Regions from separate parts of the Homo sapiens genome. Here all the other regions are linked to region 6. The links come from fine-mapping of genetic effects on gene expression. A gene starts in region 6. Each other region holds a variant in brackets. All regions are shown on one strand. Distances are from middle to middle. Region 1 overlaps ERICH1 (glutamate rich 1). Region 2 has its middle 66 kb from the start of TDRP. Region 3 overlaps ERICH1 (glutamate rich 1). Region 4 has its middle 80 kb from the start of ERICH1. Region 5 overlaps ERICH1 (glutamate rich 1). Region 6 holds the start of ERICH1 (glutamate rich 1).

The links. PIP is the estimated chance that this variant, and not a neighbour inherited with it, causes the effect.
Region 1: its variant is fine-mapped to the expression of ERICH1 in esophagus mucosa (GTEx, PIP 0.99). The same link has a PIP of 0.9 or more in lung and unexposed skin.
Region 2: its variant is fine-mapped to the expression of ERICH1 in prefrontal cortex (CommonMind, PIP 0.94).
Region 3: its variant is fine-mapped to the expression of ERICH1 in cerebellar hemisphere (GTEx, PIP above 0.99).
Region 4: its variant is fine-mapped to the expression of ERICH1 in whole blood (TOPMed, PIP above 0.99).
Region 5: its variant is fine-mapped to the expression of ERICH1 in whole blood (INTERVAL, PIP above 0.99). The same link has a PIP of 0.9 or more in neutrophils.

Annotation. Positions count from the first base shown.
Region 1 is chr8:669,385-674,363 of GRCh38, forward strand. It overlaps ERICH1 (glutamate rich 1), which reads right to left. Exons shown (of 6, transcript NM_207332.3): 4 at 3,905-4,663. Among named protein-coding and RNA genes, the nearest start is that of ERICH1, 59 kb to the right of the region's middle. The variant C/T (reference allele first, on the strand shown) is at 2,771.
Region 2 is chr8:608,621-613,599 of GRCh38, forward strand. No RefSeq gene overlaps it. Among named protein-coding and RNA genes, the nearest start is that of TDRP, 66 kb to the left of the region's middle. RefSeq lists an enhancer at 4,692-4,979. The variant C/G (reference allele first, on the strand shown) is at 2,925.
Region 3 is chr8:686,763-691,741 of GRCh38, forward strand. All of the region lies in intron 3 of ERICH1 (glutamate rich 1), which reads right to left. Among named protein-coding and RNA genes, the nearest start is that of ERICH1, 42 kb to the right of the region's middle. RefSeq lists an enhancer at 917-1,571 and a silencer at 1,151-1,410. The variant C/T (reference allele first, on the strand shown) is at 2,474.
Region 4 is chr8:648,935-653,913 of GRCh38, forward strand. It overlaps a transcript of ERICH1 not described here. Among named protein-coding and RNA genes, the nearest start is that of ERICH1, 80 kb to the right of the region's middle. RefSeq lists enhancers at 2,711-3,212, 3,213-3,712. The variant A/C (reference allele first, on the strand shown) is at 2,723.
Region 5 is chr8:701,800-706,778 of GRCh38, forward strand. All of the region lies in intron 2 of ERICH1 (glutamate rich 1), which reads right to left. Among named protein-coding and RNA genes, the nearest start is that of ERICH1, 27 kb to the right of the region's middle. The variant T/G (reference allele first, on the strand shown) is at 2,997.
Region 6 is chr8:729,333-733,332 of GRCh38, forward strand. It overlaps ERICH1 (glutamate rich 1), which reads right to left and starts at 1,892. Exons shown (of 6, transcript NM_207332.3): 1 at 1,808-1,892. The coding sequence starts at 1,829.

The DNA of each region.
Region 1 (4,979 bases), 59 kb before region 6:
ACGTCTGTCTGGTGGGACGCCTCCCCTGGCCCGTCTACACGTCTGTCTGGTGGGACGCCTCCCCTGGCCCGTCTACACGTCTGTCTGGTGGGACGCCTCCCCTGGCCCGTCTACACGTCTGTCTGGTGGGACGCCTCCCCTGGCCCGTCTACACGTCTGTCTGGTGGGACGCCTCCCCTGGCCCGTCTACACGTCTGTCTGGTGGGACGCCTCCCCTGGCCCGTCTACACCTCTGTCTGGTGAGACGCCTTCCCTGTCCAACACACGACTCAGGGCTACGAACAGCAGCAGGTTAAACCAGACAATGAAAGCAAGCTCTCTATGTCCACATCACATCGCTTAAAAAAAGAATCAGACTGTGGCTGTTTAGAAGAAATCAAGGAGAACTGAAAACAAGCCCCCGACTTCCCCTGGATCTGGCTGCTGGTCTTGTTTCTCTGGCTGCTGTTCAGCAGTATGACTGCAATTCACTTGCCTCTGGTGGTTTCGGCGTTAACCCTGCTTGGACTTGGCAGGACTTCTTCAACCTGTGACTCTGTGTCCTGTAACAATGGTGTAAAACTCCCAAATGTCACATCTCCGTCCTGCCCCCGCTCCGTCCTCTCTCCTCTCCACCTGGGCCTGTTTCAGGGACACAACTTCCCACTCCATGTCTGCCGGGCTCTTTCCTGTGTTTTCCACCCGTTTTCTCTCCACTCTGCATTCTGGGGACTTTCTTTCACCTGTCTTCCTGGTCACTAATTCTCTTTTATACCAACTCTCATTTGCTGTTTCCCTGTCTTTTGAGGCCTGAATTTTAGTTACTATATTTCTCAGGCCTAAAATTTCCATTTGATTATTTTAGTAGATTCAAATTACCTGGCGAAATGCTCCAATTTTTCCTTTTTCCCCTTATTTTAGGCTCCTTATCTGATAACATCGGCCTCTCCCACTGTGGCTCTACTGCTCTTTTTTTCTCGTGGTTTTCGGTGCTGTGGTCCTGTCTCGTGGCATGCCCGGTAAACTGTTGCTGAACGCATAGGAAAGACTGCAGAGGTCTAGGATGGCGACATTTTCCTCTAGAGGGCTCACCCTTTGCTCCGCCAGGCAGACCGAGTAGAGGGGGATCCCCTGGACCGTGCAGGGACTGAGCTGACTCCAGGGTGGCCACACATTTGGGACAGTGTCATCTGCTTCTGGGCTGCCCTGCTCTGCTGGGCTCGAGGGTCAGGCCGATCCTCATCTCATCAGCACCTCAAGATGGCCAAGAGGCTCCTATGTTATTCGGAGGCTCTCTGTGTGGCTTCTCATCTTCCACCCACAGCTTCAGAATTGGGCAAAGGTTCTAAGGGAAGCCATGCAGTGTTGAGTTCTGTTCTCTGACCTCTGAGTCCACCGGCCCCAGCTCCAACCTCTGAACCCCCTGGCCCCAGGTCCAACATCTGAGCTTACTGGTCCCCAGGCTCTGACCTCTGAACCCACTGGCCCCTGCTTCGACCTCTGAGCCCACCGGTCCCCAGGATCCAACCTCTGAACCCGCCGGCCCCTGCTCCAACCTCTGAGCCCACCGGTCCCCCAGGCTCCAACCTCTGCACCTGCCAGCCCCAGCTCCAACACCTGAGCCCACTGGTCCCCAGGCTCCGACCTCTGAACCTGCCGGCCCCTGCTCCAACACCTGAGCCCACCGGTCCCCAGGCTCCGACCTCTGAACCTGCCAGCCCCGGCTCTAATGTCTGTGCTCACTGGTCCCCAGGCTCCGACCTCTGAACGTGCCAGCCCCGGTTCTAATGTCTGTGCTCACTGGGCTCCAGGCTCCGACCTCTGAACCTGCCGGCCCTGGCTGTAATGTCTGTGCCCACTGGTCCCCAGGCTCTGACCTCTGAACCCGCTGGCCCCTGCTCCGACCACTGAGCGCGCTGGTCCCCAGGCTCCGACCTCTGAACCTGCCGGCCCCGGCTCTAATGTCTGCGCTCACTGGGCTCCAGGCTGAGACCTCTGAACCTGCCGGCCCCGGCTCTAATGTCTGTGCTCACTGGGCTCCAGGCTGAGACCTCTGAACCTGCCGGCCCCGGCTCTAATGTCTGTGCTCACTGGTCCCCAGGCTCCGACCTCTGAACGTGCCAGCCCCGGTTCTAATGTCTGTGCTCACTGGGCTCCAGGCTCCGACCTCTGAACCTGCCGGCCCTGGCTGTAATGTCTGTGCCCACTGGTCCCCAGGCTCTGACCTCTGAACCCGCTGGCCCCTGCTCCGACCACTGAGCGCACTGGTCCCCAGGCTCCGACCTCTGAACCTGCCGGCCCCGGCCCTAATGTCTGTGCTCACTGGGCTCCAGGCTGCGACCTCTGAACCTGCCGCCCCGGCTCTAATGTCTGCGCTCACTGGGCTCCAGGCTGAGACCTCTGAACCTGCCGGCCCCGGCTCTAATGTCTGCGCTCACTGGGCTCCAGGCTGAGACCTCTGAACCTGCCGGCCCCGGCTCTAATGTCTGTGCTCACTGGGCTCCAGGCTGCGACCTCTGAACCTGCCAGCCCCGGCTCTGTCTGTGCTCACTGGGCTCCAGGCTCTGCTTTTGGTTTCTCAACCTGTGAGGCTGGTTTTTCTGCCTCTCTGGGCTCCACCAGGTCCTTTCCCCAGACCCTCACCCAACGCCCACACACAGGACTTGCAGATTCCTGAAGACAAGTGGCTGCAGATGTTTCCATGATAATCTCCCCGTGAGGGTTCCAGGAGTTCCATCTTTCTATGAGCTGTTTTCCTGAGTAGCTTCCTGATCCCTTCAACAGGTGTTTC[C/T]CATCCTGGCTTTCTGGTTACTCCTGGCATGACTGTTGGTCTGCCCCAAGCTGCTCGATCACACACAGAATAGAAAGTTTACTGAGATCTTTCTGAATTCTGCGTCTACTTTGCAGTGTCTTAGCCATGTCTTCCTGATGTGCCATCTGGATATATGTTTTCAATTTGTTAATACAATCTGCTGAGAAACACGCTAAAGAGGAAGAGGCTAGAGTGCTCTTCGTGTTGAAATCAATCTATTAAAAATGGTACTTCTGCATCTTTGTTAAAATCAGTTACTTACTTCCCAAATTATTACATAGCTGATATTTCTCAATCTTGCTCATAAGAACACCATCAAATGCCTTGCTTAAATCTGGATCTGCTAAACCCACCACATTAACCTGAACCTGCTGGTAACGTCATTGAAAAGACACCTATACCCACAAAAATTAAACAGTATTAAAAAAAATTAAAGAGAAGAAAGCCAGGAAGCCAGCGCACGGTGAGTATCTCTGTTCTGGGGCAGCCACGTGTCCCTAGGTCAGCTGTCAACAAAGCGTAGTGCAGATGTAAGCAAGTGCCATCTGTGACATTAAACCTATGTTTATTTTCCTTATCTTATGTCAGTACAAACAACTGCACAATAATGCATGCTGAGAAATCGTGCATCCGTTCTATGTGGAAGAGAAAATGAAACCTGTCCTAAAGGCGCAAGCTGTGTTTCCTTCACCTCTCAGTCTGCTTATGAAGGTGAGCTCAGCTCATCAAAACCTCCAATCTGGATTTATCTCTTGTTTAGAAAAATAGCCTGGATGCCAACACACTCCAAAACCTGACCTTAGAGGCATGGAGGACACGGGGCCAGCCTGTCCTTGGCACAGCTGGCCAGGGCCACCACACTGCTTCTCTGGATACGCCAGGGGCGCATGCCCATCCACATCATCGGTGGAAAGCACATAAATACTCTGATCTTTGCCTTATAACTAATTATTTACATTGAATATTTTTTACTTATATTAGTTGCCTTACAACTAATTATTTTACATTGAATATTTTTAAAGTATGTTTTAACATTTAAGCATTATATTTGTTTCTTTTAATAAACTTTTAAGTGGATGTCACTATGCAAGAGAAAAACAGTAAAAAACATACCGTCATAAAAATACATTTCCTGTGTTGACTTCAAAAAATTTAGAATACTGTGTGCCTTTTCATTGGTAATTGTATCATCTTCCTCGCTGGCGTCTGCACCGTCCTCCTCCCCGGAGTCTGCACCCTCTTCCTCCCCAGCCCATGTCGGGTCTTCCTCGCTGGCGTCCGCACCGTCCTCCTCCCTGGTGTCTTTACCGTCTTCCTCCCCGGCCCGTGTCAGGTCTTCCTCAATGGTGTCCACACCGTCCTCCTCCCTGGCGTCTTTAACGTCTTCCTCCCCGGCCGGTGTCGGATCTTCCTCACTGGCGTCCGCACCCTCTTCCTGCCTGGCCCGTGTCAGGTCTTCCTCGCTAGCGTCCGCACCATCTTCCTCCCTGGTATCTTTAACGTCTTCCTCCCCGGCCAGTGTCGGGTCTTCCTCGCTGGTGTCCACACCATCCTCCTCACAAGCCTCTCCCACGCCTTCCCCTTCATTGCTGCTGTCCTCGGGCTGGTACATGAAACTGACACCAGCAGCCTTTGCTGCCAAGCCGGCTGCTTTCTTCCTTTTAATTTGCTGTTTCTTTTTCAGTTTCCTTTTTTTATTTTTGCTTATTGTGGTGCCATCTGTGTGCTGTCGCTGAGATTTCTCCTGTAACAGACTCTGCTGTTTCTCTAATTCTGCTTGTTCTATAAGAACATTATTGGGATTTTTAAATTTTTTCTTTGATTTATGCTTCCTAATTCTTCTTCTCTTTGGCTGGTCATGAGGATCCTGATCTGTTAAAAAAATTCAAATATAACAATTTTCAGTACAATGAAACCATAACAAACATATTAGGCTAAATAAATTTTCCATCAGGATCTTGTAGTTTTAGTAGAAAAAGAGTTTACACTATTTACTTCGGTGATTCTCAACTTTACCATCAAAGATCCTAGGACTAACGTAATATAAATTAGCAGTACATACACTCACAGATGCGACAATCATAATATATGGTGTGTTTTGAAGGATGTACAAGTTGTTGCTTTTTTTTTTTTTTTTTTTTTCCTGACACAGACTCTTACTTTGCTGCACAGGCTGGAGTGCAGTGGA
Region 2 (4,979 bases), 120 kb before region 6:
TGCCCCAATGTCACACCTTCTGAGGGAGATAAAACCAAAGGACATAATGAATCCCAAAGCAAAAAACAAAAGACAGTTCTCCCTAATACCCCCTCGCCACTCAGCCAAAACAACGAAACACCAACCAACTATTTAACCTTCACAAAATTCTGGCTCCTTGACAAAAAGAAAATGCATGGAACACTGCTCTATGAATAGAGAATCAGCAAAATTACAGATGGACCAGCAGGTGGGCAGGACGCTGGCTTCACTCTCAATCCCTGACATACACACTCCAGTATGGAGTGGAATTTAAGAGAGTCAAGTGCATCCTCATCTCTCATTTCCCGTTGGATCTCATTCTGCCAGGGGGAGTTTAAACAATTGCAACGTGCTTTCTCATACCCTTGTCTTAATGTACACCAATACTTTTATATAACTTCTGCTGCGTTGAATCAGCCAGAGACACACATGAACTTGTCCAACATTCGTTCTTATTTTAGTGTCAGTCTCTCGGGGAATGTGGCTTGATCTGTGTAATAACAGAAAACACAGTCCCTAGATTTTCTGAAACAATAACAATTTCAAAATTCTTTTCTATTTTCCCTGAAGTACAGTTATACTTGTGAGATTGTGCCTTATTTAAACAAAGTGATATGAAACACTTTTTTTAATGATTAAAGAATAATATTTTCATTGCATAAAAATAAGAAAATTCAGTAAACTATAAATAAGAACACCAAAACTATTCATAATCCATCATTAGAGGTAGCCATTAACATTTTGGAGTATTTTTCCAACATTTACACATATAATTGAGATCATACTCTGTATGCAATACTTTTGAATATAGCATTTAAAAGGGACTATTTTTTAGAGAAGTTTAGATTTATATAAAAATTGAGCAGAAAGTACAAAGTTTCCTCATACCTCCTCTCTCCAGTTTTCCCTATTATTTATATCTTGTCTTAGTGCGGTGCACTTGTTACAATTCATGAGCCAATATTGGTAAATTATTATTAACTAAAATCAATCGTTTAGAACAGTTAGAACTCACTTTTGGGGCTGTAAATTATGTGGGTTTAGATAAATGCGTAATGACCTGTACCCACCATCACAGCATCACAGAGTCTCACTGCTCTGAAAATCATCCGTGCTCCGTGGCTTCAGGCCCTCTCTTCACCAGCCCTGGCAACCAGTGAGCTTTTTCCTGTCTCCATAGTTCTGCCATTTCTGGACTGTCCTGTAGCTGGAATCACACGGTGTGCAGCCTTTTCAGATTGAAAAGCCTTTTCAGATTACTTCTCTCACTTAGTAATCTGCATTTAAATTCTTCCACGTCTTTTCACGGCTTGAAAGTTCTTTTCTTTTTAGCCCTAAATCATATCCCGTTGTCTTGAGTGAAGGTTAAAGTTCTTCAACTTCCCTTAAAGGTATGAAAATGAATGGATGGGGTGACGTCTCAGGGGAGGGAGTAAATAGAAAACCCAGAACTGATTGATCCTGATGGCTGATTGACTGGCAGGAGTACCGGCGTCATCTCTGGTGCCCCGAACGGATCCCTACAAGCCCCCTGCCTTACGAGCGGGTACTTCCCCTGCCAGGAGGGACCGTGCTGCGTCCCCCTGGGGCTCTTGCGAGGATGATGGCAAGCCCTCAAATAAAGTGAACAGCTCAATCGCCTCAGCAATGCTGCATTTATCAATAACAGCATCCTGGGCTGGGTGGGAGTCAGGCAGGGTCTGTCTTGTGAGCTCCTGGCACGAGAGCTGCATGATGTTCTGAGCCTGTGAGTCATTGAGTAGCTGGAAGGGGCTCCGGGGACCTTGTGAAATTTGTGTCTTTTTAAATGTAACTATGATTTAATATCTGATGGGGTGTAATAAATATTTAGTAGCACATTTTTCTGCAGATGGCGAGGGAGGAGGTCAGTCCCTGTCAACAAAACACAAGTTGTCTGATTTACCGAACTTCCTGGATGGTTTGGGTTTGTGTAGAACCAGCATCTGTTTGAAAAATGCTTAAAAAATAATGCAAAATCTTTCTCCAAAAATTACCCAATTACCAAATACCACAACTTATCTCTTTCTTCCCAGTGGACTAAGTGCTAAGCGTGGCTTCCATTTCCTAAAATAAAGTGCCTTGCAATTAAGTATATATTCAGCTACTGCAGTTAGATTTTCATGTTGGTGGTGCAGAGCCCAGTGGAGAGGAGTTGATTAACTGCTGTGAAAACCAATTCCATTTATTTTATCTTCCAGTGAATTTTTAAAAGGAAGTTAATATGCTGACTTATCTTGGAACAATGTGTCATTATACTCCACACTTAAGCCCTGGGTATTAGTTTTTCTATCTTTAGAGTGACCTAAATTGAAAAGCCGCTGCCATTCTCTCTTCTGATCTAGAGCTGTCTCTCAGTTTGTCTTTCTTACTTGTAAAGACTGAGTATCACCTCATCACAACATTCGAGACACTGCCTACGACGGTTCCGGAAGTTTGGTTCAGAAACCAAACCATCGTGGTTTGGTTCAGAAAGACTTGGGAAAATGAGTCTTATTTTGAGAGATAAAAGGTCCCAAAGTGAGATTTGAGAAAATAGATGTCTAATAGGGTCATTCATATCAACCTCGGAGACAAATGATATTTTTTGCTCGTTTCTTTTTTGTGGGCCAAGCTCAACTATGTTTCAACTGCAATTTATTTTATTAGACTTTCTTTTTATGTAACTCAGACTTAAGAGTGACTATATGGAGACTAGAGTAAATCATGTTATGAATTACCCCACATCCTTCACTCTAAAATGCAGTTTGCTGCCAGAATTATGCTTCCAAAATGGTCACAGATAATTACTGTGTAGGGCCCAAGCACAAAACACCCTGTGGGGAGAATCTCAGATTTTCTGCACAGCTGTGTTTCCTGAGACCTGACATTTTCAGCAGAGCACC[C/G]TGGAGCACGCACACGAGTAAGACGCATTCCCGCCCCGGCTGGCACAGACTCGCTGGAGTTTGTGAGGTCTGCCTGAGGAGAAGGACCATATCTAAAACCTAGTATCAGGATTTCAGGCTAGATTGCATCTTCCACTAAGTTTTTAAAATATAAGATTTTTTTAGAGAAGCAAAATGGGTAATATCGCAAATGTTCAAAAAGTTATATAAATACTATTGCATATGGATAACATAGGATGCTAGTGCTCATTAAAAACCTCATTATAGAAAATTGTGCCAGGTGCAGTGGCTCATGCCTGTAATCCCAGTGCTTTGGGAGGCTGAGGCAAGGGGATCCATTGAGCCTAGGAGCTGACACCAGCCGGGCAATATAGGGAGACTCTGTCTCTACAAAAATACGAAAATACAAAAATTAGGTGGGCATGGTGGCGCACGCCTGTAGTCCCAGCTACTCAGGAGGCTGAGGCAGGAGGATTGTTTGAGCCTGGGAGGTCGAGACTGCAATGAGCTGTGCTGACGCCACTGCACTCCAGCCTGGATGTCAGAGCGAGATGCTATCTCTAAATAAATTTAAGAAAGGATGAATTGTATTTGCAACAAGCCATCGTGGTGAGAGCGAGGGATTCGGGTACCATGGAGCTCAACAGCTGGTTTTGAATGCACCAGAGCATTAAAGGAAGGAAATGACACGCTCAGGATTTTAAATTCCTGGATCAACTCTTGACCAGAGGCTCCTGTGACTGTCCTTAAAGAACATCTTCCTTCCCATCTGAAATGGATCCATTTTGATTGGAGCTAGCACGCTATATCTTTCTCTACCTCCATCTCTATATGCTGCAGCATAAATGCATTCCCTCACAAAATAAAATACATAGATTTTCTTTCTCTTTTAACTCAATTTCTTATGATTAAAAGAGGAAGAGCAAAGTACTGGCGCCGATGGAGCATGCATGGCTGAGCCAGATTTGGTCTTTTCCAAGCCCCACGTCCTACTGGAGGGCTCAAAGACAATTACAATGTAGAGTAACAAAGCAATGCATTGCAATGCCTGCATTTAAGATATCAGGGCAAGTCCTGAGGGTATAAGGTACTTGAACATGAATCAACTGTCTAACACAGTAACTAGCAGAGTTTGAAAAGCCTCAACATTTGAAAATGCTCAGGGCCTCGTTTCCGTGGATGAAGAAAATCTTTGCAGATTTGTTGTATCTTGTATTAATGTTAATTTAGCTAAGTAAATAGATTTATTTTCATTTACTTTCCAATTTTTATTTAAAATGACATGCCAGTGAATAAAATCTGGAGACCAATAAAGTATTTGTGCATATGCATGCATAATATACATAGAATGTACAAAATAAAAATATTAAAGAATGAATTATGAACCTCATTATGTGGATAAAATGCACTTGAAGTGGAAAATATTCCAAACATGAAAGAGAATTTTCATTAGGTAGAGTTCAGAAATTGTGACAAAGGTATATCTTAAATGTATTACTCTTCTTATGTAAGAACATTTGTTTAAATTATAAGAATGCCTAATGGGTTGAATTTCATATGTGTAGACAGATCCAAATTTTTCAAAATGAAAATTCAATATTCATGAGACTCAATCTAGAAAATACATTAGAAAAGGAAAATATATGGAAGTTATAGGAGTAAATTATAAAATCCTAGTCAGAACTGATAAATAAAACACAAAATATTTGCTCAATAAGCTCTCCAAGGCCCTTGTATGACTTAATTTCTTTGTGCCTTTGTTTCATTATCTGTGAAAGAGCTTCAAAAGTTGCATAAAGTCAAATTGGCTTGAAAAATTTAAGAGCTGTATTGATTTATTGGTCATTCTTTTGGCAAATACTTATCGAGTGCTTTACTACAAACACAGACGGTAGTTACAAACATGCCCCTAGCATGCAATTTTCTCCATGACCAAATTCACTTATTCATTCTTTTGCCAAGAAGCAAAGATTCCCACAAGGTTTGCACACTCCATCTACCTTCCTTTCAAAGCCTTGCTGTTTCATGGCCAGCGATGAAAGACCAGTGCCCTAA
Region 3 (4,979 bases), 42 kb before region 6:
TCAGAGAGAGAGAGAGAGAGCGCGCACAGCAGGGCGCCCCTCCCCTCCTCTAGGACCAGGCGAGCTTGGACACAGCTGAATGTGTGAACTCTCATATCAATAAATCAGCGTGACAAGAATGAAACACTGCTAGCTCTGACTCTGTCAGGCCCTTGAGAGGGTGAGATGCGAGGAATGCGGAGCGGGGGGCAGCCCCATCACCCACCCACGAGCCACTCTGGAAAGGCTAAGAGAAGTCACGCTAGGACTCCTTCAGGAAAGGCAAAAGGCAGAGAGAGCCACGATTCTGTCAAAACAGAGCATGTACGGATGTTTAACTCAAACGGAATCCACATTATAACTGTGCATTTACTGCATGCTTCCAGAAGCCGTGAAGTTAGTAACTATTTCAACTGGTGCTTGCTGCTAGAATCACCATCACAACAGCTCTCCACAGAAATGACTTATGTTCATGACTCTGTAGCTGGATCTGAGCACAGAATCTGAGTCAATGCCTCACACCGCTTGTGATTAGGAACCGGGGAAACACTAACACTTGCCTTACGGGCTGTTTTTATACATAATCATTCAACGCAGTTCACCAAATATTGACTTAAGACTTAATTCCACCAGGCGCCAGGATAAGGCTCCTCGGGGAATAAAAAGCCGGCAACGCTCACGTTTGCACAAGCTTTGCAATAAGCCCAGACGGTCTGGCACAACAAACGCTAAGCGTGTGGGTCCAGACTGTCACCCCATGGGCAGAGAAGGGGCCCGCTAACACCACGCGCTGAGGGGGCGCAGGGGAGAGGCGGGAACCCGTGGAGGGAGGCAGCGGCGCAGGGAGCAGGACTGGAGGGAGGCGGGTCCCTGTGGAGCGCAGCAGGAGGAAGGCAGCGCGCGGGGAGCGCCCGGGCGGCCCAGGCGAGGCAGGACGCAGCGCTGACCGGACCCAGGGCTGAAGTCGGCAGAACTGCGGCCAGTGCCCGCCGCGCCCGGGGGAGCGCGCCAGGCCCGCGGGGCCCTAGCCGAGGCCGTAGTAGGTGGAATACGGGGCAGCCACGGAGGAATCGGGGGCGAGGCGCGGAGAGGCCCCGGATGCAGCGGTCCCGCCCCGAGAACGGAGCGCGCGGAACCGGCGCAGGCCTCCGAGGCTTCCAGCCGAGACGGCACCCAGGTTTCCCGAGCAGGGTCTGAGGCTCCAAGGACATCCCGGCGGCGAGAAGGCGCCGAGAGACCTGCCCGGGTCCCGAGCCCCGACCGCAGCCCCAGCTCCCGCCGAGGCCCTGGAAAGGCGGGGGAGACGCGCGGCGGCGCGCGGTCAAATTCCTCAGGCACCCAATGCAGTTCCCGGCTGCAAAAACACGGGAGACAGGAGAGGAGGGAGGGTCTGCAACCCAGGCGGGGCAAGTGCGCCCTCAAGGCCGTGGCGAGCCGGGGCGCAGGACACGGCAAGGCCCCTGAGCCGCCCACGCAGGTTTCCCGACGTTCTCGCAGAAAAGGTAAAGCGGCACCCCGCCCCCAGTTCCGCCCGTCCCCGCCCCGCCCCGGCCCTTCCGCCGCCCCGCCCCGGGCCACCCCACCTCGGCGCCATCCCGCTCTACGCTTAGCCCCACCTCGGCCCCGCCCCCCGGTCCCTCCGCAGGCTCCAGAGGCGCCCAGGCTCCGCTTCCCTCCGGCCTTCCTTAGCGCCGCGCCCATTCTGTAGGCCAGGCTCACAAAGGAGCCTCCCCAGCTAGGGTCAGCTCCTACAACGCCACGGCCCTCCTGGCGCTCTTCCCTTTCTTAGGCCTGAGCACACCGCCCAACACAAGCGTTTAAAAAGCATTTGATTCAGTGAATTACTTGGTAAACCCTGATTACTCAGTGTACTTGCAAAAAGGAAAAGATGTAGCTCAGAAAACAAGCCATTTTAAGAATCTAAGAAGAATGAGTTAAGCAGCAGAGAAGTGGGGAAAGGTAGTAACTACCACAAACTGGAGGTCAAAGGAAACAACTGCTACTGAATAAAAACAATGAAAAGCTGAAATCTGAGCTTCCTGGTGGCAAAAGCAAAAAGGGTATCGATGGGAAATCTCTCTCTTATCCAACAAGAAGTACACGAGTTCATAAGAACAAAATATTTTTCTAGCGCTGAACTCTAAAGGGAATACCTTTCACCTGGAGTTTTACATAACTGCTAGTGACTGCACAATGAATAAGGAACAAGATTTTAAATGACAGTTTTACAAAAACAAGGAAAAAAGGCCAACACTCTCCAGGTCTTTTGATTAATCTGCAATAAAAGATGAATATGAAAAGTGAAACTCCAAGATGATATTTTCCCAGAGAGGTACACTCATATAAACTAGGTGAAGAGCTCACGTATGATCTTTTTTTTCTTTTTTTGAGGCGAATTCTCGCTCTGTTGCCCAGGCTGGAGTGCAGTGGTATGATCTCGGCTCACCACGGCCTCCGCCTCCCCAGTTCAAGCGATTCTCAGGCCTCAGCGTCT[C/T]GAGTAGCTGGGATTACAGGTACATGCCACCACACCTGGCTAATTTTTATATTTTAGTAGAGACAGGGTTTCGCCATGTTGGCCAGGCTGTTCTCAAACTCCTGACCTCAGGTGATCTGCCTGCCTTGGCCTCCCAAAGTGCTGGAATTACAGGCGTGAGCCACTGCGCCTGGCCTCACCTATGATCTTGACTTGATGTAAGGTAAGCATTTCCAAAACCTAACGGACTGATCAATTCCTGTGTTCCCTGAACGAGGCTTTCAGATGCTGGCGGTGCCCCCACACCCCTTGTCTCCTCCTGGAGGTGTCTGGCAGGAGCAGGAAGGTGCACCACCATGCAAGCTGCCAGCACTGTGTGCCACTGGAAAACCCAGGGAAGAGGCATGTTGGGGGCACTGCGGACATTTTCTTCTAAAAATTACATGGCTGGACTTGTTTCCGGCACCGTGGCATAGGGACACACTGTCGTGCTGCTGGGAAGGTGCCCAGCGTCCCCACAGTGGTCAGCTGGGTCCAGAGTCCTGTAATGCGGTCTACACAGGAGAAGACGGACGTAAGCGGTATTTTGAGCACAACGTGCTTATCCCAGCTGCCCAGAGGAATGTCCACATCACTGTAATAGACTCTGTAAATTCATGTAGGGCAGTGTTCCTACGACGCGCCAGGACCGTGAGCAGAAGAGCGTCCTGCCAGATAAGTGAGTTCGCCTGCTAAATGTGGCTGTGTAGCATTTTCCATGGAGACTCTGCCAAAAAGGACAACTTTCTTCTGGCACAATCTATAGTGGGTTGTTCTGTCACTAACAGGCCAGAGGTTTACTGGCTTCTGGAGAGCAAGACGCAACCCCACGTCAACAAGAGGAGGAGTACGTGCATGTTTCTGTCTAGAGCCAAGACCCATTAACCCAGGTGGCAGAGGTCCCAGAACCACATCCAACACAATGCCATTCAAGACTTCCCACAGCCCGTCTCCTTCCACCTGTTCCTGACAAGCTGTGAGCCCAAAAGCACCCACAGTCTGTGCTTGTCACATTCAGAGATTACCCAAAGAACACAGACAAGACAGACTGAGACAAACTGCTGGTACTTAGGTCTTCCTGTCCTGGCTTTTGGGCACAGGTCTGCCTGTCTTCATAAAAAATACACACAGGCCCTAATTGATATGGTCAGTGAGCACTAAATCTCCATTTATCACAAGGCAGTAGCCAGGTACCCAGGACAAGACAAAGGGCAGGCCCTCAGCCTGTTGGAACCGGGACCGGCAGACCCAAGGGCGCAGCAAGTGCCGCTGCGGGGGCCTAGATGGCCTCCGGGAGGGTGGAAACCAAGTCTCAGAGGCCGGGCAGCCAGGAGGGGCCAGACTGAGGGCTAAGCACCAGGTATGCCACCCCTGCCTGGGCGACAAGGCCCTGGGCGGCCGATCCAAGTTGCTGTGGGGATGCCCCGGCGCAGAGCAGGGCTGCGCAAGGTCCTGAGTGTGAATGCCCAGGGGGCCTGGTGCCAGGCACAGCAAAGGCAAAAACAAACAGCACTTTCCTCTGCAGCTTCCTGGGAGTTGACGTGTGGGCCCCACGTGTTCAAAATGAAAGCCAGTGACCTGAGTGCTTCCAAGAGAGACCACGACAACAACGTTGGCCGTTATTTTTCCAGCTCCAGTTCTCACCTCTGTGCTTAAAACTGCAACCAAAAAAGCTCAAAGGCTCTTCCTTCTTGTGTGCCGTGTTCCCACACTGACCTTGGAGGGTCAGAGAGAGAGGGGTCCCATCCTTGCTTCTCCTGGCCTCTGGCTCCTGAGGGCCCTGGAGGCTCCATCGGCTCTGCAGCTGCAAGGCTGTGCTTGGGGCTTGCTCTGGGCATTTTCTCTTTCATTTTGAAGAACAAAGGTAGGAAACACAATTAGAGGGTGGGCTTTGCTGTCTTTTTCCCAACTTTACCATTTCAAGTCACTGGCGCCTGGAGAAGGTGGCAAGGGGGCCCGGGCAACAGGAAAGGAGTGACTCCTCAAGGGCTCCTGGACACGTGTCCTCAAGAAGCAGCTTGTGAAGAGAAATGCCTGTCTATGTGGTGCAAGTATCTTTCCACTTCCTGTAAGAACACTGCTGTAGCTCAGTCCTGACACAGCCTGTCTGGGAAGCAGTGTTGGCTCATGGCCAAGCGAGCCTTCTACCCTGGGGTCCAGCACAGGCCTGTCCTGGGAACATGAGCAGCATGGACAACGCGGTACAACGGGGCGAGAGCGCCAACCGCGGACAACAGGAAGGGCGTGAGTGAGGGCCAACGCACTTCCTTCTTGGACAGATTAAGTACGCAATGAAGCATATTCACCCAGAGGAATTTATCTTCATAAGAACGCACATTTTCTAGTTAAATAATCTATCTATCTAATAATTGTGTTTCAAAGATTTTCAACAGGGCTTGAAAGGATGAATCCATTATTCCTTAGTTATCTCATTTTTGTTTTTATGGTTTCTGATCCTTTAATTTAGGAAGCCAGAAAGACAAAAGCA
Region 4 (4,979 bases), 80 kb before region 6:
CACAGGACATTTTCCTGCCTGTAATCTCTTTGCATATTTTTAAGTGGATTAGTTCCAGTGGGTGTGTTCAGGGATATTTGCATACTAGTGCAAATATGTTAAGCTCAGCAGGGTGATTTCCCAAATTCATTCAAATGCTATTATTGATAACAGGATTTTCTGTGGAACTGTGTGCCACTGTGGAAGGGCTGATCTGAGTTACTGCCTGTACAGACACAGACGCACTTTATTACCTGGATGAATTTAGACATGGGGGGCAGGAAACTGTGAGGCCAGGCTTTCCTCCTGTCCACCAGCATCTACCAGCATCCAGGGAGAGTAAGAGATGGCATATCTGTGCCAGTGCAGCTGTCTTTAGAATAAACAAATATTTAGCTAAAATAACACATACCTATTTCTTTGCATTTCACCCTGAAAACAACAAGAATAGAGTTTGCAGAAGGGCTTTTACGCTCACAGTGTGGTTAAACTGGCTTCTCGGCTAAGAGCGGGGCTTGCTTTTATTCTATGCTGTCCTCAAGGTCAAGCACAGAGAATTCCAGGGTGGGTGTATCCTGTGCATTGTGGAAATGCTCAGAGCCCCTGGGCCCCGGGGGGAAGATCCACAGGGGAGAGGTGAGCCCTGTTGTCACCTTTGTTGGATGTCCAGCACCGTACCTCTCTCGGGGGAGGGGGATTGGGGTGGGGCCGCGCCGGCTGCTGTGAGCCCTTCCTGCAGGAAGGTGGGCTCAGATCATGAAGCACTGCCTCCAGGAGGCAGGAGCTGGAAGACGGGGCTCCAAGGCCCTGTGGCCCCTGGCTGAGCAGTGTGACCATGAGCGCAGGCACCATCCATCCACGTGGAGACAGAGCAGCCGCACAGGGCGGACGGCGTATCAGAGCAGGTGAGCTGACAGCTGGGCTCCAGCAAGAGCTTTCCAGGAATCGCTGTCAGGGCTGGGAGGAGCAGTGGCCCCAGGTTGGGAGGAGACGTGACAGGACCGGGCCTGGGGAAGCGTGTGCTGGCGTCAGGGAGAAGACGGCAGCCGCGACATCTGGCACCTGGGGCTGCAGAGCCTGAGCACCCCGGACCGCGCCCGGCGAGGGCGGCCTCCCTGCGCTGAGCGCGACCTGCGTGTCCTGCTCTCGGCTTTCGTGCCGGTTCAGAAGAACAAGGCCGGAAGGTTGCGGTCTCAGCGCTCGCTCCATGCCGGGAGCGCGCAGAGCTGAGGGCGCTTGCGTGTCCGGCACAGCGTGGAGCCCGCGTTCCTCTCTGCACTCAGGAGCTGCGTCCCGTTCCGTGCTGGCGATGAGGACGCCGGCCTCCGCCAGGCCGAGTCAGCACTCTGTCCCCGGGGTCTGACTCCGTGGCCCCTGTCCTCGCTGGGTCTCCCCGTTCCAACTTTAGTGACACGGTCTCAGGAGAGGATGCAGGCAGAACGGGCTTTCCTTTTTCCTGCCCTGGGGGCTGACATCTGCCTCACGGATGCCACCCACTGAAAGGGCAGCCCTTGTCGCCTTAACTCGTTTTCCATCTCAGTTACCGTCCTCGGCAGGGCACTGTCACATCCTAACGTGAGGACGAAATGGGCTTGACCTCCCAGCAGCAGCCGCCCCGGTGGCTGCAGGTACCCCCGAGGCCGGCCCCAGACACTGAAAGGGAAGCAGCCAGCCTGACCAGGGAGGAACCGGTGTCAACGCGCTCAGATTCCAGAGCCGGCACCGTGCCATAGGGCAGGAGAGAAGGAGGACATGAGGCGCAGGACGCAAGTTCAGGCCACCCTGACCCTGAAGAGGGTGCAGCCACCCCGCAGCACACGCTGATAAAAGGGTCTCTTCTGTTGTGGGCTCCGAGGCCTGCAGAGCCGAGACCTGACCTGATAAAGCCAGAGCAAGGGGCTGCAGCCACCGCAGGAGGCTTCAACGATTCATGGTGAAAGGTCCGACTGAGAGCCCTGGAGTGTGTTATCCCAGGAGAGCTCCTTGAGTGTGACTGAGAAATAGATCTGGGGTCCTGTCACCAAGGCGGTGTATAAACAGTTTACAAATGACAGCAGATACGAATCACCGAAGCCAGGCAGAACACCCCTCGTTCGTCCACGATAGAGCTCTAGTCTTGCAGGGGTTCAGTGGTTTAAGGAAGATGCGTTGTTGGGGAGCCACAGTCCCTGGCTTATCACACATCTTGCCATGGCTTGATTCAGGCCAACATTGATACTGCATTTCAGTTAAGTTGAATTAGACACTGCAAGTCAATGTCAGTTGTTTTGGGCTTCAGTTCACATCTGGTTCAGCTCAAGTTGTTAGTCCAGGGTTGGGAAGAGAAGTGGCGCTGGGCTTAGGCGTCCTCATCTCCCGAACCTGCCTGACACTGTGACACTGGGTTGGGTGGGAGTGGGAAAAGAGGGGAAGGGATTCTGAAAATACTAATTCTAATTTTGCAATCTATCTTTACAAATATCATCCCAGGGCTCCTTGGAGAAGCAGCTGATCCCAGCTCCGGGGCACAGAAAGTTTCCGGTAAGCCTGGGGCTTCAGGGCCTTCAGAGCAAGAAAGTGCCCTTGGCAATGGGGCAGGTGGAGAAAATGCAGGAGCCAGCCCGGAGAGGCTCCCACTGCCCAAAGAAGAACCTGGGAGTCCACGAAGTGGGAAGGGGGATTAGGGAGAGAGACGGAGAGCTGGGGGCAGGGGAAACAGGTAAGCCAGAGAGAGAGCTGGTGGGCAGGGACAGGAGAGGCAGAG[A/C]GCGAGGGAGACGGGCAGGGTGGGGGAGAAGACTGAGGGGAGAGAGAGGCTGAGACGGAGTGGGAGGGGGGAGAAGACTGAGGGGAGAGAGAGGCTGAGACGGAGCGGGAGGGGAGGGCATCTGGTTTCCCTTCGGCAGCCACTCTGACATCATTGTCAACTCTACTCGGAAATCGGTGAGGAAAGGGACTGACTTCAGCAGTTCCCCCTTGCTTAAGAGAAAGTGTGTTTCATTTCCTCTTGATGAGAAAAAAGCCTTTTTCACAGAATGCTTGGTAATAAATGTGGCAGGAATGGTGAAATTAGAAGATCAACTATTTTGCAACCCGAATGAAGGCACTGATTTGGGAAAAGGCCGTTGGCAGTTGCTGAGGCATCCGGGGACCTGGAGGCAGAGCGTTTGCGGGCGCTGGGGCATCTCTGCATAGGTTTACCACCGACGGCTCTGCACTCACCTCTTCAGACAAGCGATTGCCCTGGTGCTCCATGCCACCCCATCGACGCCTTCCCTGAACTCACCCTGCACCCACGTGCCCTCTGAATCCGACGCCTGAAGACCTTACTTCCGGTGGCAGGAAATGCAGCCAGCAGGAGGAAAGGTTACGTGATGGAGGGAGAAGCTGTTCTACAAGAGCAAGACTGGGGCCTGGCCCCGTCAGAGTCACCACCTTTAGGGAAGCAGTGGACAGAGATAAATGAGACAACACAGGCTCGCAACCAAATGCAGAGCCCGACCGTTGTTGGCTGCTGGTTGGAAAGATGTGCTGGGGACAGTGGGGAAATCTAGATAGGAACGGAGTGGAGTTGATATCACATAAAGTGACCACGAGCTTGCCTGGGATGGTTCTGGCTCACACCTGCTGTTTCCGCATAATTATTAATCCCACCTCATTCACTTTCCAAAGTGTCCTGTTCTGCTGATAATTCCTATGGTCATTCAAAAGCTGGGGAATTGGTGTAGTTGTCTTAGGCATGAATAATGGTGTTGAGCTTACAGGGTGTCTTCATTCCTAGGAGATGCCTCAGGCTCAGAGAATTTAAGCTACTTGGAGAGACCAGGGGCACACAGCTCATCTGATGTAGAACTGGTTTATAAAAACTGTGATAAACAAAACAACCCAAAAGTAGGCACGGGACCGGAATGGAAATTCTCCTAAGAAGATAGACAAAGGTCAACACGCACGCAAAAAGATGTCCGGCACCACTAATCAGCAAGGAAATGCAAATCAAAACCACGAGGTGCTGCTTCATAACCATCAGGATGATTATCATATATTTTTACAAACGAGAAATAAGTGCTGGAGAGGATGAGGAGGAATGAGCACACTCATGTGCTGTTGCTGGGAATGAAAAACGGTACAGCCATTGTGGAAGACGGGGTAGAAATTCCTCAGAAAATGAAACCCAGATTTAATTACCGTATGATCCAGCCCTTCCACTTCTGGGCATAAACCCCCAAACTGAAAGCTGGAACTCAACAGGTGCTTGTACACCCATGTACAGAGTAACATTATTCTAACAGCCAAAAGGTGAAAACAGCACCATGTCCATCTACAGATCAATGGACAAACACAGTGCCATGTGCTAACACGAACTAAATGTGGCCTGAGAAGAATGCCAGGACGTCTATGTTTGAGTCCTTGTGGACGAACTATAACCTACCTTAATAGCAGACAGGACTGAAAACCTAATTCAGGAGTCTGCGCCTGTAATAGTGGCCGAGTCTTGACCAATCCCAGCAGCCATACGTCAACCATGCGTAGACTGCCGAGTGTTCAAACTGTTCCAATAAGGCAAATGCCAACCTGGAACCAATCCAGCTGTTCTGTACCTCACTGCCGAGTTTTATATATCACTTCCCCTTTTTTTTGTCTATATATTTGTTCTGACCACGAGGAATCCCTGGAGTCTCTCTGAATCTGCTGTGATTCTGGCGCTGCCCGATTCATGAATCATTCATTGCTCAATTAAACTCCTTTAAATTTAATTCAGTTGAAGTGTTTCTTTTAACAAATGGAATATGATCCAGCCTTAAAAAAGAAGGGAGTCTGGACACAGGCTATAACACGAGGAACCCTGAGGATGTTATGCTGGGTGAAATGAGCCGGTCACAGAAGGACGAATCCCGCAGGGTGGCACTGAGGAGAGGTCTCCGGAGGGGTTGGAGCCACAGAGACAGAAAGTAGGATGGTTGGTGGCTGCCACATGCGCGCAGGGGAATCTGGACACAGGCTATAACACGAGAAACCCTGAGGAT
Region 5 (4,979 bases), 27 kb before region 6:
ATGAAAAGGCAGCCAGGCGCGGTTGCTCACGCATGTAATCCCAGCACTTTGGGAGGCTGAGGCAAGCAGATCAAGAGGTCAGGAGTTCAAGACCAGCCTGACCAACATGGTGAAACCTCGTCTCTACTAAAAATACAAAAATTAGCCAGGCATGGTGGCGGGCGCTACTCGGGAGGCTGAGGCATGAGAATCGCTTGAACCTGGGAGGCGGAGCTTGCAGTGAGCCAAGATTGCACCACTGCACTCCAGCCTCGGTGACAGAGCGGGACTACATCTCAAAAAAAAAAAAAAAAAAAAAAAGGAAAGGCAATCCACTGAGAGAAGGTGTTTGCTGGGCTTTGAAGCATCTAAAGAACCCCGGAAATTGGTAAGACAAGCTCCGCAGAAACACGGGCAAAGGCAGATGGCCAGGAGGCGTGAAAGGCTGTCCAGTTTTGTTAGCTTGGTAGCGTGCATTGAATAAGAAACAGAAACCTCACACTCAATTAGCGAGACTGCAAACACTCTGTATTAACCGGGGCCTGGAGAAACAAGAACGCCGGCGAGTCAAGTGAGCACACAGCGGCACAGCTCCTTTAAAGACACGCTGGGAATCTGTCCCTACGTTGAAATGTACAACCAGCACCTCTCTAGGCACACACCCCAGGGAAACTCCCTGAGTGCAGACACACAAAGACAGCAGAGAAAGATGCCAGAAAACACAGGAGCAGGCACCTCCCACCTCCAGCCAAGACGGAAAAGTCTTGAACAGACACTTAGAAGAAGAAATACAAATGGACAATAAGCACAATCAAAAGCTAAACATGAAAGAGGCCGACAGTGCGCCACGTGCTGCAGGATTCACTCTCACCACACTCAGCACCAGGTTCCGTGACAGGCGAAGGTCGCAGCTCGGCAGGAGGGTTTGCATGTTGTGTGGGAGCGACACTGGTGCCCTCAGCTAACTGCCAAGACCCGCCAAAGTGGACCCTTTCGGCCAGCACAGCCTTGGTGATGGACGCAGAGGGGCAGGGCGGAAGCCAGAAGGCAGGAGCGAGAGCTGGATGCCCCGGGAACCAGATGGAAGCCTGTCTCCGTCCTTGCTGCTGAGGGTAGCAGTGGGTGTCCTACCCAGGACAGGTACCCCGCACGCCTGGGGTTAGCTGAAGGAGGGCCCAAGAAGCTGCAGAGAGCCGGAGGCCCAGAACTGCCCACACCACCCAGGCAGGCAGCAAGTCTGCAACAATGCACATGAGCTGCGTGAGCTTTCACCTCCAGGAGCTGGAAACTAAAAGGGCTTACGTCCACCTTCCGAATTTCAGGCAGAAGGGCCTCTCGTGTCCCCCTGTAACCAGGAGCATTCGGGGAGGGAACTGTGGGAAATGCAGTTCAGCACAGCCAAATGCACAGAAATGAACCCATCCTATCTGTTAATGGCACGTCAGTAAGATACAGATGAAGGTGCAGGACAGACCAAGTGCACACACCCCATCCTCCTCCTAAGGCCCCACCAAAATGAGAATAAGTGGGTTTGCAACACACAGAGGACAAATGAAGGACAGATGAAAAAAATACAGTGTTGGAAAGTGAAAAGTAGACGGGATGCTGAATCCTAGAATGGCAGCCGAGACACAGCAGACACGAGATCTGCTCCAGAGGGGCCGCCAAGGAGCCTGGAAGTGGGGAGAAAAAGGGGGGCAGGCAGGCTGTGGAAGCCTCCCCACCACCCGTGGGAGACCGGGACTCACTCTCTGCAAAGGCCAGGCCTGGCTCCCAGGAGCCCCAGGCACCATAACTGAAGGCAAAGACTCCATAAGATAAACAGGGAGGGAGAGCCTGTCCATAGAGAGTGTGAGAGACCCTTCTTCTCCTCCTTCCCGCTCCAACTCTGAGACGCAGTGACAAAAACGAAGGGTGCAGCCGGAAGGGTGGAAGATGAAATTTGAGAAAATCTCCCAGAAAGTGGTCTCAAATCACTAAACCATAAAAAATCCGGGAGAAGATGTAAGAAAAAGGGGATCTATTGGGAGACTCAATGTCTGAATGACAGGAATTCTGTAAACCGAAGATTGAAAGCAAAGAGGAGGAAACGATCAAGGAAACAAGAGAGTGGCACATGTTCCCAGACTACGGAGGCCACGACAGATGAAAACAGACCATGCTCAAGACCTCAGCATCAGGCTGCACCCACATGAAGGCCAGAAGCAGAACCTCAAACTGTCCTAAGGGAGGAAAACTGCTCATAGCCACAGGAATCGAGAATGATGGCAACTGCCTTCTCACAGCGACACTGGATGTTAAAGACTTCCAGTGTGAAAGACAGTTATTAGCCCAGAATCCTACACCCCGAAAAACTTTTAAGTACAAGAATTAAGGTATACTTGACCTTCAAGATCTCTAAAATATTTATCTCCCAAAAACCATTTTTCAGGAAGTTACTAACGAACGCATTTCAACAAAATGGAAGCAAACCCAAGAAATGAAAAGACTGAGGCCCAGGACAGCAAAGGAAGCCCCCGGGAGAGGTGAGACCGGGAGTTACGGCAAGGACTTGGGGGCGGCCCATGCTGGGGGTGGAACAGTCTGGAAGAGGCCACGGAAGATGAAGCTCATTGACCCTGAATGTGTCTGACCATAGAACAAGGACAGGGAGGTGAGGGGAGAAATTAGTACTATTAAGTATTTAGAAGAAAATGTAAAAATCCAAGAAAACTATTAACTCTACTAAAGCTCTGCTCACTCCACTAAAGGTTTCACAAAACGGAATAATCGTGTGTTATGTGACTCAGCAAGAAACGGTGTTTACGGAGACATAAACATGTAAACAATACTGATGTACAAACATTTTGAAAAAATCATATTGGAAGGACGGGGGTTGTAAAAAATGTGCATCCATGGTGGGGGAAGCTGCTAAAAAAAACCAAAATCCTTAGTTTCCAAAGTCAATACATAAGATTTAATCCCTTCCCTCCCTGCCAAAAAAGAAAGAAAAAGAAGAAGAAAACAGGAAGCAACAG[T/G]GTAAGTGCGTGACTCTGAAAGGGGGGGTGGTTTTACCCAGGAGCAGCCACTGCAGAGCTGGAGGGTGTGTGACTGGAGTGATGGGCAGAACATTGCTGTTTTTAATAATAATTCCTGAGAATTATTTGAATCTAAAATATATGCAACACATAACTGACAAATTTAAAAAAAAGTTCAATATGGGCTCTTCAGTGAAAAAAGTTTACCAAAATGCACATACACCAGTTATTTTGGTTGTTGACAAATCAGTCTTATCTTTGGGACAAATGGAATTATCAACACTCTTCTAGAACCAAAGAAACAGATCGTGTGAAGTGAACAAATATCAATCAATTGGCTAAATCATTGCCATAATTACCATGCTTTGACCTAACCGTACAAGAACATTTTCCTCCGTCTCATGTCCAAGGACGGATGTGGGCACTGTTCCTCATCCGGCTGCCTCCTGTCCCTCACAGAGCGCCACTCGGCCCAGCCCTGATATCCAGCAGGACTCCTCCTGGACGTGCATCTCAACGGACACTGCGCGATGGCCCGTGCAGAAGTGACCCACGGTTCTTACGTTTTTTATTGTGATTTCATCATTTTACCCCCGGCCAAGACTTCTCTTTTTCCAGATGCAAGTAAATTATAACATTTTTCCTTTAACATTTCCAAGGCACAGCACTTCAAAAATATGTTGTTCATGATTAAAAAAAAATCAATAAACTGGGCATAGAAGGGAACTTCTTCAACATGATAAAGGCCACGTATGAAACCCACAGCTAACATCATACAGGATGGTGAAAACAGGGATGCTTTCTCCTCAAGATCAGGAATGAGACCAGGATTCCCACTCACGGCACTTTTTGTCAACATCGTATTAGAACTTCTAGCCAGGGCAATTAGTCAACAACAACAACAACAAAAGGAAGCAAAGGGCATCCAGACTGGACAGGGAAAGTACAACTATCTTTACTCACAAAGGAAAAAGTAAAACTACCCGAAATCACAGATGACAGCATCTTGCACAGTGATGTACCACAAAAGACACTGGTGAAAGGCTGGCCGCATGGGGGACGGTGGAGCCTTAAGATAATGCGGACCCTGAAGATGGTAACACTGCACTTTCACCGTACGTTTTTAATGTTTGGATGCTGAAAGGCTGGCTGCATATAGGACGGCGGACCCTGAAGATGATAACGCTGTATTTTCACCGCACCTTCTTAATGTTTGGATGCATGAACACTCACCATGGTGTTACAGTTGCCACTGTCTTCAGCACAGGCATGTACTGATTGGGCGAGCAGCCTGGGAGCAACAGGCTGTGCCACACAGCCCAGGCCTGCAGCTGGATCCACTGTCTAGTGTGTGTAAGCGCACTTTGCTCACACAGCAATGGACTCCTTTGGAATGTATTACCGTTGTTAAGTGATGTGTGACTGTACATAGAAAATCTAAGAAATCCACAACAAAAATGTAAGAGCTAATAAACTAGTTAGGCAAAACCGCAGGATACAAGGTCAATACACAAAATCCCTTGCATTTTCACAGACAAACACTGAACATTCCCAAAAGAAAACAAACAAAAAAGAAAGCAATTCCACTTACAATAGCACCAAAAAGAATAAAATACTTTGGAATACACTTTTTAAAAAACGGTAAAACTTTTCTACGTCCTGTAAGTACTGGAAGGAAAAATATAAAAAAAGATAAGGCCAGGCGCAGTGGCTCACGCCTGTAATCCCAGCACTTTGGAAGGCTGAGGTGGGCGGATCACCTGAGGTCGGGAGTTCGAGACCAGCCTGACGAACATGGAGAAACCCCATCTCTACTAAAAAAATACAAAAAAAATTAGTCGGACGTGGTGGCACACGCATGTAATCCCAGCTACTCAGGCTGGAGAACTGCTTAAACCCAGGAGGCGGAGGTTGTGGTGAGCCAAGATCATGCCATTGTACTCTAGCCTGGGCAACAAGAGTGAAACTCCATCTCAAAAACAA
Region 6 (4,000 bases):
GCTGGACCTTGGGAAAACAGACATCCCTGCAAGGGGACACGCCAAGCTCCATCCCCTCCTCCTGCGGCACCTTCCCCTAACTTCACTCGTTGCAAGCCACGCAGAAGGGAAATGCTCTGAAGAAGACACACACTCCAGTTTCCTGCTCCATCAGGTCACAAATGCTGGGAAGTTTTATTCCAGCTAAATCCTCCCTTCAGTGCCTCTCAGAGCCTAAGTGCCACTCAGCCGATGGGCTCTTCAGGTGATCTTGAGGAAGACACACAGAAAACTAATATTTTCTTTCCCACCTACATTTTATAAACTTTTGGGATTTATTAATCTATCCTTCCAACCACAATGTCCTTAAACAACGTAAATTTACTTGACCATTCTGTCACATATCCAATAGGAAAAAAAGGCTGTTTCGAGGGAAGGTGATTAGTGAATGACTAAAACAATTAACAGCTTTCATTCACTTTAATTTGGTGAATGGAGAAAGGTTTTTTTTTTAAGTTGATTAGGTACATTACAGATGCTATAATAATTTCTTGCATAGAGAAGAGCATTTATTCCAGGCTTAGAAGAGTGCAAACATTTGAAGGAATGTAAGAGAAGAGTGTGTTGTGGTTTAAAACAAGGAGAAAACCTGCAGTAGCAAGAAGCCCCCCACCAAGAAGGCAGGCACAGCTTTGCAGGCAGCTGACCGTCAGGTCTGCTCCTAAGAACCTCGACACTGAATTCACAGCCTGCCAGCCCTGCTTCCAGGAGAGGGTCATGAACAAGGTATTTCTGGTGCTCATTAACATACGTGAATGTCCATTTTAGAGCCTAGCATGTGACTGCTTAAAAACTCTTAGGTCATTTTTAACCTGTGAGCTGATCAGGTGACAATTCCCTGGTCCTGAAGGAGAGGGGGAAGCCCACGTGCAGTGTGTCCCTGAAAAGGAAGACTTGAGACCATATTTTTCTCCACATTCTGCCTCACTGAGAAATTTTTTCTTTTTAAGCAATTGTTTTATAACTATAGTTTGCCATTATCTTTTCATTTCAAAGGGAAAAACATGATTATCAGTTTTAAACATAGAGAAGGAAAAAAATTCATCAGCGCCTGAATTAATCCAAGTAACACGAGATTCATGTCAAAAACCGCCACTCTTTTCATTATGATGATGATTACACGGTGAGGGTAATGAGCTGGGGTTTGCAGGAAGCAGGAGCACGCTTTATTTTCTAACACTTCCGTTCTAAGGCACGGCCAGGTTAACCAATTCTATTTATTCTCCTCCTGTCTTTGGTACTAATGCTATCACAGAATTTAATAAGCACTAGGATGCGCCCCACACCTTAGGTCCACTGAAGGTAAACACCATGACCTCCGTCTCTCAGATGAGGACACAGTGGCTCTGGGAGGTTCTGCTGTACTTTTCGGTGAGGCTGCCGGAGCCGGCTGCAGCCCCACCCCGGAGCCCTGGGCTAGGACCCCTCTGAAGAGCTGAGCGGCTCCTACTCACTCACCAACAGGGGCTCTGCTAAGAACACGAATCCCTGGCTGGGCTCGCCTCCGCCCAGGACCCCAGACACCAGGTGGGGCCTGGCAGGGCCGGCCCGACCAGCAGCCATGCAAGCAACAACACGGGCGAGGGGTGGGCCGCGGTCCGGGGTAAGAGCGGGGGATGGGTAGGGACTGGGGTGGAGGTGGGGAGTCGGTCTGGGTTTGGGGTGGGGCCTGGAAAGGGGCCGGGGTCGGGGTCCCGAGTCAACACCGCGGTCTGAGCCGAGAGCCGGGTCTGGGGTCTGGGCAGGCCTCCGCACCGCACCCACCTACCGTGCTTCCTGTGCGCCGCCATGCGGGACCCTGCCGCGGACCTCAGACCACGGCGCGCGGTCCTGAGCTGAGCGCCGTGCCTTCCGGGTTCCGCCCTCCTGGGTCCGCCCACAACAGCAGGAATGCCCAATCCGAATACGGGACCCCGCCACGGGCGGTCAGTCAACTACATCACGGCCGTAGATTGGCTGATATCGAGTCTGTAGGCGTGTCGCGAGGCTCCAGACCCGCCTCTGGGAGCCCCGCTGTGGAGCATGCGCGGAGGGAGGGCTGCGGGGGCGGCGGTGCGGGCTCTTGGGGACCTGAGGACGCTGTGAGAGCGCTGGCGGCGACTGCTCTACGCGGTGGCGGAACTCTGGGGGCGAACGCTAGGGAGGGCGTTGTGGAGAAGAGGGGAACGGAGGGCCCCAGAGGAGAGGCGCCCACCCCCAACCCCACGGGTGCACCTGCGGATCCCCAGTCCCCGCTTCGCCCCCAGGCACCCGCCGGACACAGGGAATGGCCAGGGCAGTGCCCCCGGCCCCAAGGCACCTGCAGGATACAGGGAGTGGCTAGGGCGGTGTCCCCGGTCCCCGGGCACCTGCGAGACACGGATAGTGGCCCTGGCTGTGACCCCAGCCCCCAGGCACCTGGAGGATATAGGGAGTGGCCAGGGCGGTGACCCCTAGCCCCTAGGCACCTGCTGGATACAAGGAGTGGGCAGGGCGGTGTCCCCGGCCCCCAGGCACCTGCAGGATACAAGGAATGGCCAGGGCGGTGTCCCTGGCCCCCAGGCACCTACAGGATACAGGGAATGGCCAGCCGGTCCCCAGACACCTGCTGGACACATGAGTGGCCAGGGCGGTGACCCCAACCCCCAGGCACCTGCTGGACACAGGGCATGGCCAGGGCGGTGTCCCTGGCCCCCAGGCACCTGTGGGACACAGGGAGTGGTCAGGGCAGCGGCCCCCACGTCACCCCGGCTTGCCAGACCCCTTCTTGTCTCCCTGTCCAGCTCCAAGGGCCTCTGCCCTCCCGCTCCACCCCCTCAGGACCCTCCTCCTTGAATTCGTTTCTTCCAAAACATTTCCCAGGTGTGTGCCAGGCGCTGTTCCTCATGTGGGCTGTCTCAGGAGAGGAACCCACGGAGATGGGTGTTTTGGAGGAAAATGAAGCTGGTAGGGCCTAACTGTAGAGTGATGGGCGCGGGCTTGAGGTAGGTGAGGGAGCAAGACTGGGGGTGCCCAGGGAAAGAGAGCCCACAGGAGGGAAACGATGTCCCAGGAGAACGGCTGCCCTGTTTGAGTTTGGGGACCAGAAGCAAGGGCAGGATAAGGGGAGCTCAGATCAGGAGGAAAGGAGACCCAGACCCAGGCAGGGTCTGCAGGGAGCCTGATAACTTTGCATGTTCCAAGAAGCAGGGTGGAAAGTTGTTACACGATGTAGAGCAAAGGGGTGAAATGATCTGATGCATTTTCTTTCTTTTTGGGGTAGACAGGGTCTCACTCTGGCCCAGGCTGGAGTGCAGTGGTGCCATCACAGCTCACTACAGCCTCCAGCTCCTGGCCTCCAGCAATCCTCCCACCTCAGCCTCCCAATGTGTGGGATTACATGCATGAGCCACTGTGCATGGCCTGATGTACATTTTAAAGAAGTCATTTAGCGTTGTGATGACTAGAGTTGCATGGAAGGAAGTGTGGAGATTTCATCTGCTGCAATAAGAGATGCTGACAGCTCACATCCAAGTGGTGGCACTGGAGGTTCTGGGTGGGGGGGCTAGTTGGATTGTGGACATGTTTTAAGGTAAAGCCAAAGAGATTTTCCGATTGATCAAACTGGGCTGTGACAGAAAAGGAGAAATGTAGAATGGCTGTAAATTTTTCGTTTGGAAACTGGAAGGCTGGAGTTGCACTGAGGAGGTGGAGAGCCTTCTGGGGATCTTCGTTTGGTGGTAGTGTGCAGTTTTAGACAGGTCAAGTTTGAGGTGCTCATAAGATGAGTAAGCATATGAGGTCATGAAGGGAGCAGGCGTGAACTTTAGAAAGTGGTCCAAGGAATAAGCCCCGAGGGGCTCTGGCCTTTGAGAGGTGGGGAGATGAGGGGGCCCAAGCTGTGGTACATGAAGGGTGGCCAGGGAGAAAAGGAAGGTCCTGAAGCCAAGTCAAAGAACGAACCACTGGTCTCCAATGATGTGGATGAAGCAAGAGGAGGACC